2 linked regions of the Homo sapiens genome follow. The protein of the gene in region 2 interacts with the protein of the main gene of each other region in a pairwise test. Each region holds a gene or a part of one and is shown on either strand. Other genes may lie near its edges.

The links.
Region 1: the proteins of MAP1A (region 2) and HTR2A interact in a two-hybrid assay, tested with the Homo sapiens proteins (one study listed by IntAct).

What each region holds. Positions count from the first base shown.
Region 1 is NC_000013.11:46,834,352-46,838,102, reverse strand, and holds part of HTR2A (5-hydroxytryptamine receptor 2A), read left to right. Parts: intron 1-2,463; coding exon 2,464-3,266; 3' UTR 3,267-3,751. UniProt on the Homo sapiens protein: G-protein coupled receptor for 5-hydroxytryptamine (serotonin).
Region 2 is NC_000015.10:43,527,567-43,531,317, forward strand, and holds part of MAP1A (microtubule-associated protein 1A), read left to right. Parts: coding exon 1-1,942; intron 1,943-2,083; coding exon 2,084-2,304; intron 2,305-2,502; coding exon 2,503-2,658; 3' UTR 2,659-3,751. UniProt on the Homo sapiens protein: Structural protein involved in the filamentous cross-bridging between microtubules and other skeletal elements.

The sequences.
Region 1 (3,751 bases), on a different chromosome or scaffold from region 2:
TTACAATCAAGAGTTTTCCGAAGGATAAGCAAAACTGGTCAATATCCAGGGTCTCAGAGGATGTTCTCCTTGGAGGCACAGCTCATCAATCTCTTCTTGAATGTTGCAAACAATGGGCCAGGAACAGAGAGGGATGGAGGAAATGAAGAGTCATTAGCCACAATAAGTGTCCTTATGAACAGCTCTGATGTCATTTATCTCCACCTTCCAAGAATCCTGGATGGGCTTGCATAGGCAAGTGACAAATATTGTTAATTAAGTCTTTGAAGATAATGGCAAATGTCACTAAGAAAGATTTGTGTTGAATATTACATCAACTCAGCGTTCTTTCCTGGCCACGATGGCCAATGTGAGGTGACATGAGGTTAGGACAGTCATGCCTGTGCTTGGATGAAGCGGAACTCTGTTCTGAGTATGCAGAAGTTAGATTAGAGATTCTCCAAAAACCTTTTTCCAGATGGATGGCAAGAGTGAGGCAGTGGCCCCCAATTCTGGAATAAACCGGTGTTCTTGGCTGGTGTGAGACCATGTATTAGACTCTAAAGACGGTCAGAAGCAGTAACCACAACACTCTTTGTTCTACAATTCTGAGTGTGCTGATAATATGGGCAGGAGTTAGAAGGGAACTATTTTTCTGACTTTTTCTCCCAGGCTGTCCCTGCAATATCTACCATTTCATGAAAGAAACAATCTTAAACTAAGTTATACAGAGTACTTGATTCATGTTTCCTCTCTTTTTTATCATCCTGATTCTACCTTTATGGCAGAGAGAATAAGCCATCTCATGATTGCCTTGGACCAACCATCCCAGGCCAGTAGAGAAAGATACACCTATTTCCCCAGGAGCAGAGAGGTTGTCCATGGTGGGGGCTGGGTGGTGAAACTGCACAACATGGCCAGTTGAATCTTCCTTTAAAAAGGTCCTATCATCAAGTGGGGCACATAGCATGATTAGAGGCCAGGGGTTGCCTTTATTCACTTCTGCTTCCTCCTCTGCCTAATCCCTGTACCTGAGGGAGCCTTACAGATCCCCCAAATCTGGGTGATGGAGCAATGAACCATATAGGCCCATGTTCCCCTGTATTATCTCATCCTATACCTACTTTTTATATTTGTCAATAAAAAGTCTATGGCTGTCTTGTTTTTTGCAATCCATCCTTATGAATGCTCTACTACTAAAAACATAGAACAACCTTTATGGGACAATTGGAAATTTGAACACTAACTCTACATTTAATATTAAGGAAATATTAAACTTCTATTTAGGAGTGAGAATGGTATTGTGAAAATATTAGGTTTGTCTAAGAGTGCATGGCTTTTAGATCTACGTAATAAATATTTTCAGATTGAATGACATGATGTCTAGGATTTGCTTCATAATAACATGGGAGGGATGGCAGCCAGAGGACATATGGATGAAACAAGATTGGGCTTGAGCTGATAATCTTTGAAGCTGGGTGACGAGTTCACTGTACTGGGTTTGGTTTTTGGTTTGTTAGTTGTGTGTATGTTAAAAATGTCCCATAATAAAAGCTTTTTTAAAAAGAATTAAAATTGGTTATTTTAAATTAATATTAGAAAATTGTATTTCTCAAAAATATTTTATGTGCAATTATCATGATTTATAATGTTAAATGGAATAGGAAGATCTAAAACATATAAGGTACAAAGTACTGCATGTAAAGTACTGCATATACACATTTGCTTTTATATGTACATGTAAGTGGAAGAAGAAATGATGCAAATGTAAATTATGGTTGCCCCTGACTGGTGAGAATACATATTATTTTTCTTTATTCATTGTTACATTTTTGTACCTCCCAAATTTTCTAGAGAGAAAATAAACTATATTTAAAATTTTATAGTTATTTTTATATATAAGCCATGCTTGTGACATATTATTAGATTTTTTAAAAAAGATACAGAACTATTTGTGAAAAAGAACCTCAATTCTGTTTTAAAATGTGTGCACATGGTAAGTGTGTGAATGTATCTAAAATGAACAGCATCAAAAAAAGAAACAAATCTATATTCTAGATTTTCATAGACAAAAATAAATAAATATATAAATAAATAAAATGAACAGCATCAGTTGTTAATTGTGGCTATCTCTAGATGGTGACGTTATTGGACAATTTTTAGTTTATTTGCCTCTCTGTGTGTTTCTTCAATTAATAAGTATAATATTATAATCAGAAAAATGTGGCATAAAAAATAAAGCTAGATTTATTATACTTCTTTATAAGGGTTAGCTATATAGGGCAATATAACATACAAGTAACTACATAATATATACTTACAAAACACATATGTAAGTCCAAAGGAATTTTAAATTCTCAAAGTATGTTAAGCTTTTAAACGATGATATAAAATCTTTTCAATAGCCAATATTATGTGATGATGCTCTTGCCTTCATATACTTAATTCCTTAATAATCATGTTTCATTTTCTGTTCAACTCCAGGTATATCCATGCCAATACCAGTCTTTGGGCTACAGGACGATTCGAAGGTCTTTAAGGAGGGGAGTTGCTTACTCGCCGATGATAACTTTGTCCTGATCGGCTCTTTTGTGTCATTTTTCATTCCCTTAACCATCATGGTGATCACCTACTTTCTAACTATCAAGTCACTCCAGAAAGAAGCTACTTTGTGTGTAAGTGATCTTGGCACACGGGCCAAATTAGCTTCTTTCAGCTTCCTCCCTCAGAGTTCTTTGTCTTCAGAAAAGCTCTTCCAGCGGTCGATCCATAGGGAGCCAGGGTCCTACACAGGCAGGAGGACTATGCAGTCCATCAGCAATGAGCAAAAGGCATGCAAGGTGCTGGGCATCGTCTTCTTCCTGTTTGTGGTGATGTGGTGCCCTTTCTTCATCACAAACATCATGGCCGTCATCTGCAAAGAGTCCTGCAATGAGGATGTCATTGGGGCCCTGCTCAATGTGTTTGTTTGGATCGGTTATCTCTCTTCAGCAGTCAACCCACTAGTCTACACACTGTTCAACAAGACCTATAGGTCAGCCTTTTCACGGTATATTCAGTGTCAGTACAAGGAAAACAAAAAACCATTGCAGTTAATTTTAGTGAACACAATACCGGCTTTGGCCTACAAGTCTAGCCAACTTCAAATGGGACAAAAAAAGAATTCAAAGCAAGATGCCAAGACAACAGATAATGACTGCTCAATGGTTGCTCTAGGAAAGCAGCATTCTGAAGAGGCTTCTAAAGACAATAGCGACGGAGTGAATGAAAAGGTGAGCTGTGTGTGATAGGCTAGTTGCCGTGGCAACTGTGGAAGGCACACTGAGCAAGTTTTCACCTATCTGGAAAAAAAAAAATATGAGATTGGAAAAAATTAGACAAGTCTAGTGGAACCAACGATCATATCTGTATGCCTCATTTTATTCTGTCAATGAAAAGCGGGGTTCAATGCTACAAAATGTGTGCTTGGAAAATGTTCTGACAGCATTTCAGCTGTGAGCTTTCTGATACTTATTTATAACATTGTAAATGATATGTCTTTAAAATGATTCACTTTTATTGTATAATTATGAAGCCCTAAGTAAATCTAAATTAACTTCTATTTTCAAGTGGAAACCTTGCTGCTATGCTGTTCATTGATGACATGGGATTGAGTTGGTTACCTATTGCTGTAAATAAAAATAGCTATAAATAGTGAAAATTTTATTGAATATAATGGCCTCTTAAAAATTATCTTTAAAACTTACTATGGTATATATTTTGAAAGGAGAAA
Region 2 (3,751 bases):
ACCTTCAGCTATGCAGCCCTGGCAGGACCCACTGTACCCCCAAGGCCAGAGCCAGGGCCAAGTATGGAGCCCAGCCTCACCCCACCTGCAGTTCCCCCCCGTGCTCCTATCCTGAGCAAAGGCCCAAGCCCCCCTCTTAATGGTAACATCCTGAGCTGCAGCCCAGATAGGAGGTCCCCATCCCCCAAGGAATCAGGCCGGAGTCACTGGGATGACAGCACTAGTGACTCAGAACTGGAGAAGGGGGCTCGGGAACAGCCAGAAAAAGAGGCCCAATCCCCAAGTCCTCCTCACCCCATTCCTATGGGGTCCCCCACATTATGGCCAGAAACTGAGGCACATGTTAGCCCTCCCTTGGACTCACACCTGGGGCCTGCCCGACCCAGTCTGGACTTCCCTGCTTCAGCCTTTGGCTTCTCCTCATTGCAGCCAGCTCCCCCACAGCTGCCCTCTCCAGCTGAACCCCGCTCGGCACCCTGTGGCTCCCTTGCCTTCTCTGGGGATCGAGCTCTGGCTCTGGCTCCAGGACCCCCCACCAGAACCCGGCATGATGAATACCTGGAAGTGACCAAGGCCCCCAGCCTGGATTCCTCACTGCCCCAGCTCCCATCACCCAGTTCTCCTGGGGCCCCTCTCCTCTCCAATCTGCCACGACCTGCCTCACCAGCCCTGTCTGAGGGCTCCTCCTCTGAGGCTACCACGCCTGTGATTTCAAGTGTGGCGGAGCGCTTCTCTCCAAGCCTTGAGGCTGCAGAACAGGAGTCTGGAGAGCTGGACCCAGGAATGGAACCAGCTGCCCACAGCCTCTGGGACCTCACTCCTCTGAGCCCAGCACCCCCAGCTTCACTGGACTTGGCCCTAGCTCCAGCTCCAAGCCTGCCTGGAGACATGGGTGATGGCATCCTGCCGTGCCACCTGGAGTGCTCAGAGGCAGCCACGGAGAAGCCAAGCCCCTTCCAGGTTCCCTCTGAGGATTGTGCAGCCAATGGCCCAACTGAAACCAGCCCTAACCCCCCAGGCCCTGCCCCAGCCAAGGCTGAAAATGAAGAGGCTGCGGCTTGCCCTGCCTGGGAACGTGGGGCCTGGCCTGAAGGAGCTGAGAGGAGCTCCCGGCCTGACACATTGCTCTCCCCTGAGCAGCCAGTGTGTCCTGCAGGGGGCTCCGGGGGCCCACCCAGCAGTGCCTCTCCTGAGGTCGAAGCTGGGCCCCAGGGATGTGCCACTGAGCCTCGGCCCCATCGTGGGGAGCTCTCCCCATCCTTCCTGAACCCACCTCTGCCCCCATCCATAGATGATAGGGACCTCTCAACTGAGGAAGTTCGGCTAGTAGGAAGAGGGGGGCGGCGCCGGGTAGGGGGGCCAGGGACCACTGGGGGCCCATGCCCTGTGACTGATGAGACACCCCCTACATCAGCCAGTGACTCAGGCTCCTCACAGTCAGATTCTGATGTCCCGCCAGAAACTGAGGAGTGTCCGTCCATCACAGCTGAGGCAGCCCTCGACTCAGATGAAGATGGAGACTTCCTACCTGTGGACAAAGCTGGGGGTGTCAGTGGTACTCACCACCCCAGGCCTGGCCATGACCCACCTCCTCTCCCACAGCCAGACCCCCGCCCATCCCCTCCCCGCCCTGATGTGTGCATGGCTGACCCCGAGGGGCTCAGCTCAGAGTCTGGGAGAGTAGAGAGGCTACGGGAGAAGGAAAAGGTTCAGGGGCGAGTAGGGCGCAGGGCCCCAGGCAAGGCCAAGCCAGCGTCCCCTGCACGGCGTCTGGATCTTCGGGGAAAACGCTCACCCACCCCTGGTAAAGGGCCTGCAGATCGAGCATCCCGGGCCCCACCTCGACCACGCAGCACCACAAGCCAGGTCACCCCAGCAGAGGAAAAGGATGGACACAGCCCCATGTCCAAAGGCCTAGTCAATGGACTCAAGGCAGGACCAAGTAAGTATATCATGAAACTTGGCAGAGAGTGTGGGTTAGGGCTGGGTGTGGGCTGGTCAGACTTCAGGAGTGGGACAGAGGGGAAGGTTGCCAAAAGGGTTCTACTTTTCCTCTACAATGAATCCTGGCTTGTCTCTACAGTGGCCTTGAGTTCCAAGGGCAGCTCTGGTGCCCCTGTATATGTGGATCTCGCCTACATCCCGAATCATTGCAGTGGCAAGACTGCTGACCTTGACTTCTTCCGTCGAGTGCGTGCATCCTACTATGTGGTCAGTGGGAATGACCCTGCCAATGGCGAGCCAAGCCGGGCTGTGCTGGATGCCCTGCTGGAGGGCAAGGCCCAGTGGGGGGAGAATCTTCAGGTGAGTAGCAAAGGACACCAAGGAAGTAGTCTGGTCAACGCTCACTCAGAGGCAGTAGTGGAACACAGTCCCTATTTATTAAAGGATGGGCCTTTTCTAAGGGCAGCAGAGCTGCTTCTGAGACCATGAGGTGCCCCTTCCCCCTCACCTACCTTCCCTTTATGTTCTCACATCAGACATATCTTATCTCCCTTCTAGGTGACTCTGATCCCTACTCATGACACGGAGGTGACTCGTGAGTGGTACCAACAAACTCATGAGCAGCAGCAACAACTGAATGTCCTGGTCCTGGCTAGCAGCAGCACCGTGGTGATGCAGGATGAGTCCTTCCCTGCCTGCAAGATTGAGTTCTGAAAGAGCCGCCCTCCCTTCCCCAAGGATCCACTCCCCCAGCTCCTTTAGAGAATGGCTACTGCTGAGTCCTTTGGGGTTGAGGGAGATGGGAGCTAGGGGGAGGGGAGGGAGATGTCTTGTTGTGGGGACTTGGGCTGGGCTAAATGGGAGGGGTTGTCCCTCCCCATCATCCATTCCTGTGAGGTGTCTCAAACCAAAGTTAACAGGGAGAGGATGGGGGAGGGGACAAATTAGAATAGGATAGCATCTGATGCCTGAGAACCCTCTCCTAGCACTGTCAAATGCTGGTATTGAATGGGGACTGAGGATGGGTCTCAGAGAGCAACCTCCTCCCTCGTAGAGGGAGATTATATCCCCAACTCCAGGGACCTCTTTATCTCAATCTATTTATTTGGCATCCTGGGAGGGATTTCCAATAGTAATTTATGTGACCTGGGGCAGGATACCGTCAGTGAGGTGCCCAGAGCTGCACCCTTTCCTCCATTTCCCATCCCCCATCTCCTCAACCACCAGGGTCTGAGTTCTAGCAGGGTCCTGGGGGTATCCCACTGCTATACTGTTCTACTGCTTCCCTCAGTATCTGAATGTCTCAATTTAAAACTTGAAGCTCTTTAGACCAATAGACTGGTGAGAGGAGAAAGGAGCTTATCCCCCAGACCCTGCTTTATACCATTCACATCCCAGGGCTGTGTCCAGACAGCACAAAACGGCAAGGAGAGCCCAAGCCCCAATGCCAGAATTCTTCCAAACTCCCTGACTCTTTGAAGTTTTTACTCACCCCATTTCAATTATCCTGATCCCTTCTCATCCCCTGCTTGGCTTCTCTGCATGTGGTCATCTGCTGTGGCTTGGTGTTTAATGGGTTAAAAATAAGCCACTGCCTGACATCCCAACATTTGACACCCCAGCAATGTGTGACTCCCCCAACATTCCACTATGCCATCCTGCAGCTGAAATGGGAACACTGGCTGCCTCTCCAAACCCGCTCTTGGACAGAGGATCTGGGAGGTGGAAGCCAGGCCAGAGGACTTGGGGAAAATGAGATGGAGGAAGGAAAAAGGGAGAAGCTGAGCCACAGCTTAACTCCTACAGA